2 separate regions of the Homo sapiens genome follow, and region 2 is linked to region 1. Evidence: fine-mapped expression QTL. A gene starts in region 1. The other region holds a variant in brackets. All regions are shown on one strand. Distances are from middle to middle.

Region 1 (2,912 bases):
AGGGTATTTTTTCTTTCTTTTTATTATTTTATTTTATTTTATTTTATTTATTTATTTTTTTTGAGTCGGAGTCTCGCACTGTCGCCCCGGCTAGATTGCAATGGCGCGATCTCGGCTCACTGCAACCTCTGCCTCCGGGGTTCAAGCGATTCTCCTGCCTCAGCCTCCGGAGTAGCTGGAATTACAGGCGCGCCGCCACGCCCGGCTAATTTTTTTTGTTTTTAGTAGAGACGGGTTTTCACCATGTTGGCGAGGCTGGTCTCGAACTCCTGACTTCGTGATCTGCCCGCCTCGGCCTCCCAAAGTACTGGGATTACAGAGGTGAGCCACCGCGCCCGGCCTCTTTCTGTTTTTAAACAAAACTTCCATTACAAACATCGGAGGCTGCAAGGCACAAACTGGGGCAGGAGTATGCACAGTCGCCCAGGATGACAAGTGGCAGGTTTTTTGTTGATGGTGGTGGTGTTCTGAAACACCAAACTTTAAAATGAACTGTTACTTAGAGAATTACTGTAATCGGAGCGGACGTGCTAACGCTTTTTCACCCCGGCACAAAGCACGCCCCTTCTGCCTCCCTTTCCCAGTCATTCTTCAGGCGTGCGGGAAACCGCGGACAAGCAGAGCACGGGGACCAGCACGATCCTCCTGCCACCACTCCAGTCTCTGCAGGTGCCAGCATAGAAGAAAACCAGGGCTCTCGCCTCCCTCCCCGCCACTGCGGTGCGGTCCCGGGGTGGAGCCACGGCGCGCCCCATCCTGAGAACCCCACCTGGAGGGGAGCAGGGACGCAGGAAGGGCACCGTTGGGAGGCATCACTGGGTTCGCTGAAGGCACAATCGCGCGCGCACACACATACACAGACACACATACACACACGCACGCACACACACACACACACACACAGCGGCGCGCGGTGGCGCGGGCGGCTGGCGCGTTACCTGTTCTGCCAGCCCTGGAGGAGGTTGGTGTATTTGCTGAGCACGCCCTCGAGCGCCGGCTCCCTCCTGCGGCCGCCTCCCCCGGACGGGCTAGCGGCCACAGAGCCCGGGCTGCTGCGGCTTCCCCCGCCGCCGAGCCCGGCCGCCGCCGACCGGCTGGAGACCCCCCGGCCCGCCAGAGAGCAGGAGGGCGAGGAGCCCGCCGAGGTAGCACGGCTGCTGCTGCGGCTGCTGCTGTTGCTACCCCCGCCGCCGTCTGTGCCCTGGACTGCCCTCTCCATGGTCCGTGGGCGCCCGGGACGCGGGTGCCCGCCGCGGTGGCGGCCCCGGCACGGCGGCTGCTGCTGCTGCTACAGCTCCGGACGCCCGGGCCGCGCGTGCCTGCTCCAAATCCCCGGGAAATGCCTGACTCATACAGGAGGAAGAGGAGGAGGAGGCGAAGGAGAGCTGGGAAGGAAGCCAACGGGGCTGGATGCAGCTGCGGCCGCCCCTCCTCCCGCCGCGGCCAGGGCCCGGCCCCTCCCTCCGCACTAGTTTCCCGGGCAAGTTCGGAGCGGGTGGCCGGCTAGGCGAGCCCTCTTCGGGTTCCTCCTTCTCTTCCTTCGTGTCCCTGCGGCCTCTCAGGCCCTCGGGACACTCTAGGAGGCCGATCTGCAGGGTGGGCACGCCCTAAATCCACGCCAAGTCACCCACGCATTCCTTCTGCCACCCTCTCTTGGATCCGAAGGGGCGAAAGGGAATCTCTGCACGTCACTCCCCACCCCTTATCCACCTCGGGACCTGGAGGGAGGGGCAGCCCCACCCACCCGGTCCACCCGGATATGGACCCGCCCGGCCTGACAGGCTCACACGCACACTCCCTCTCTCGGTCTTCCGCACACGATGCTGCGCCAGACGCTCCTACACAGTAACCTGGAAATTATCACCGGCGGAGCAAAGTCACAGCTCAGGGAGGCCCTCCGCGTTGTCTGGCGGAGGAGGGGAGTGGCAGGTGATCCTCACAGGTAAGCTCGCCGGGCATTTTCATGCAGCAGGATTATGATAAATGCTTAACAGACACACGGCTGGGCTGGGGTGAGGCGCGCGAACTCTCAGGTTTGTGCGAGTGCTTCCTTAAATTGAGTGTCCTAGGTCACTCACTGGCCTAACCCTAATCCCCTGCCCTGAATGGCACGCATAAACCTGGCAAGTCAAAACCTATCCATTGCTACCACACTGCACGTGCACCTAGGAGCAGAGGCTCTGAAACCGGGAAAACTGCTCCAGAGGCAAGGGAAATTAACAGATATTTACAAACATTGAAGGATTCTCTGTGTTGGCTGTAACTTCTGCGCCCCTCTTCCTACCTAAAGATACTCTTTCTATCCCACTAATATTTTTTGTGAATATAGATATCCATTGTAATCTGAAGTATCAAAAATTACCTAGAAAAAAGCTTTGAGGAACTCAGACTCTCTCTCTCACACACACACAGACAAAACAAAAGGTGATAGATGATAGGTGATCTCCGTCCAAAGGATCTACAAACCCATCAAGCAGATAAATACTTCAAGAGTTAAAAAAAATTACTAAATGGAAAAGTCAGCTCTCAAAGGGACAGTTCCCCGAGCCCAACCCCTTTCTAGCTTCACATCCTTCCAGGAAGATTTCATGGGTGGTTTAGCTCTAGAGATGCACGGAGAAGCTTCTGGAGTTGAAGAGAAGTGGTTGTGCCCCTGAGTAAATTACAATTCCAGGTGCCTACATAGTGTTAAAAAAAAAAAAATCTGAAAAGAGCTTGCCTGGACCAAATTTGAAGCCATTCAGAGCTGAATTCTAACCTATGACCTTGATCAAATTACCTCTTTTAGCCTTAGTTTTCTCACTGCAAAATGGGACAAATGATACCGGCTGTAATAAACTATGCAAGAATGTTCATTTGTTCAAAATATTTACTGCCGCTTCCTATGGAAAGAGTATCCTTCCTCCACATGG
Region 2 (2,912 bases), 110 kb before region 1:
GTCCTATCAACCACCCAAGGGCTGAGGAGTGCGAATGCATGGCGCAGGACTGGCAGGCAGCTCCACCTGCAGCCCCGGTGCGGGATCCACTGGGTGAAGCCAGCTGGGCTTCTGAGTCTGGTGGGGCCTTGGAGAACCTTTATGTCTAGCGCAGGGATTGTAAATACACCAATTGGCACTCTGTATCTCGTTCAAGGTTTGTAAACACACCAATCAGCACCCTGTGTCTACCTCAGGGTTTGTGAGTGCACCAATCCACACTCTGTATTCTAGCTGCTCTGGTGGGGCCTTGGAGAACCTTTATGTCTAGCTCAGGGATTGTAAATACACCAATCAGCACTCTGTATCTAGCTCAAGGTTTGTAAACACACCAATCAGCACCCTGTGTCTAGCTCAGGGTTTGTGAGTACACCAATCGACACTCTGTATCTAGCTGCTCTGGTGAGGCCTTGGAGAACCTGTGTGTCTATACTCTGTATCTAACTAATCTGATGGGGAGGTGGAGAACCTTTGTGTCTAGCTCAGGGATTGTAAACGCACCAATCAGCGCCCTGTCAAAACAGACCACTCAGCTCTACCAATCAGCAGGACGTGGGTGGGGCCAGATAAGAGAATAAAAGCAGGCTGCCCAAACCAGCAGTGGCAACCCGTTCCCGTCCCCTTCTGCACTGTAGAAGGTTTGTTCTTTCGCTCTTTGCAATAAATCTTGCTACTGCTCACTCTTTGGGTCCACACTGCTTTTATGAGCTGTAACACTCACCCCTAAGATCTGCAGCTTCACTCCTGAAGCCAGCGAGACCATGAGCCCACCGGGAGGAAGGAACAACTCCAGATGCGCCGCCTTAAGAGCTGTAACACTCACTACGAAGGACTGCAGCTTCCCTCCTGAGCCAGCGAGACTATGAACCCACCAGAAGGAAGAAACTCCGAACACATCCAAACATCAGAAGGAAAAAACTCCAGACAGGCCACCTTAAAAGCTGTAACACTCACCGCAAGGGTCCACGGCTTCATTCTTGAAGTCAGTGAGACCAAGAACCCACCAATTCCGGACACACTGTAACACCACTTTTCCTATCCTAGAAGTTTCCTAAGACCACCCACTTGATAAAAACTACAAGAAGCCAGGCTCAGTGGCTCATGCCTATAATCCCAGCACTTTGGGAGGGCAAGGCAGGAGGATCGCTTGAGCCCATGAGTTGGAGAACAGCCTGGGCTATGTGGAGAAACCCTGTTTCTACAAAAAATTAGCCGGGGATGATGGTGTGTGCCTGTGGCCCCAGCTGCTCAGGAGGCTAAGGTGGGAGGATGGATTGAGAGCCTGGGAGGTCAAGGCTGTA[G/C]CACTGATTGCACCACTGCATGCCAGCTTGAGCAACAGAATGAGACCCTGTCTCAAAACACACACACACACATGCACACGCACACACATGCAAGAAATTCACTCTTGCATTTCTTGCATTTAAGACCTTCAAAGTCATACACAAGTAGATTCTCATAAGAATGGCTTTATGACTCTCTCTCAACACTTTCTCCATCAATGCTGCTTTAATTTTTATAATGCACTAAAGGCCGAATGTTTTCTTTTGTTGTTTGTGTTTTCAGGGGAAGTCTGTGTTCTATTCTTCCTGGCAGACCAATCCCATACCCCGGTGACTCCACCTCAAGTAACACCGGAAACCACAGGATGAACCTATGTGACATGGAGAAAAGGGAGATTTTGTCTGTTTGTCAGTTTCTGTCCATGCAGAATCAGAAACTTTCCTAGAAGGGACCCCACCACCCACAGAGGGAAGCACATGGTGGCCCTAGCTGACATCTGTGAGGCTAGATGTCAGAGCAAGGACAAGAAAGCAGGAGACCCAGGTTCCAGTCTTAGCACCACAGCCTCCTGGTTGGGGCTTCTTTGTGTACAAACCAATGGAGGCTGGGCGAGATAGCCAGACCTCTGGATTTCAAAAGCCAATACGTGTTTTGTTTTTGTTGTTGTTTTTTTTTTTTTTTTAAGTCTGGGAATTGATTTAGGGTTATTCACACTTTCAATTTTTCCAAGTAAGAATATTAAGAACAAAAAGTACCATAATTCCACTAAAATAGCTAAAATGTAAAGACAGAATCAACTACTGATACACACAACAGCATGGATGAAATTCAAAAGCTTTTTTTTTTTTTTTTTGAGACATGATCTCACTCTGTCACCCAGGCTGGAGTACAGTGGTGCAATCTCAGTTTGATGTAACCTCTGTCTCCTGGGCTCAAGCAATCCTCCCACCTCAGTCTCCTGAGAAGCTGAGACTACAGGTGTGCACCACCATGCCCAGCTAATTTTTTTCATATTTTTTTGGAGACAGGGTTTCGCCATGTTGCCCAGGCTGGTCTCGAACTCCCAGACTCGAGCAATCTGCCTGCCTCAGCCTCCCAAAGTGCTGGGATTACAGGCGTGAGCCACCACATCCAGCCTCAAAAACTTTTTTGTAAGTAACAGAAGTCTGTTGTGAAAGGCCATATAATTCTACCTATAGAACATTCTAGAAAAAGCAGAACTATAAATAGGAAACCAATCAGCAGTTGCCAGTTGCAGAGGGGTCAGCGAGGAGATTGATCATAAAGGGGGTAACGAGGGAACCTGCTGGCAGGGCGGAATTGTGAGTACAGTGGTGGTTACTCGACTCTATATATTTGTCAAAACTCAGTGAACTTTACACTTAAAAGGAGTTAAATTTTATTGTATGCAAATTATACTCTAATAAACCTCAATTTAAAAAAAATGCAATCAATATTCTACCATATTCTACGATAAAAAGGAAGAATATTTTAACCATCCAAAAGCAAAGCAACATAATTTTTGAAAAAAAGAGTAGTCGTTTATTTTAAATAAAGTTGTCTTTGGGAATAATTCCCTCCTTGTTTTTCTC

The links. PIP is the estimated chance that this variant, and not a neighbour inherited with it, causes the effect. A credible set is the group of variants that fine-mapping cannot tell apart.
Region 2: its variant is the best candidate, but not a certain one, in a credible set for the expression of OSBPL10 in lung (TOPMed, PIP 0.79).

What each region holds. Positions count from the first base shown.
Region 1 is chr3:31,979,961-31,982,872 of GRCh38, forward strand. It overlaps OSBPL10 (oxysterol binding protein like 10), which reads right to left and starts at 1,302. Exons shown (of 12, transcript NM_017784.5): 1 at 939-1,302. The coding sequence starts at 1,219. ZNF860 (zinc finger protein 860) reads left to right here and starts at 1,790. Exons shown (of 2, transcript NM_001137674.3): 1 at 1,790-1,942. RefSeq lists a silencer at 992-1,061.
Region 2 is chr3:31,870,467-31,873,378 of GRCh38, forward strand. All of the region lies in intron 3 of OSBPL10 (oxysterol binding protein like 10), which reads right to left. Among named protein-coding and RNA genes, the nearest start is that of OSBPL10, 110 kb to the right of the region's middle. The variant G/C (reference allele first, on the strand shown) is at 1,341.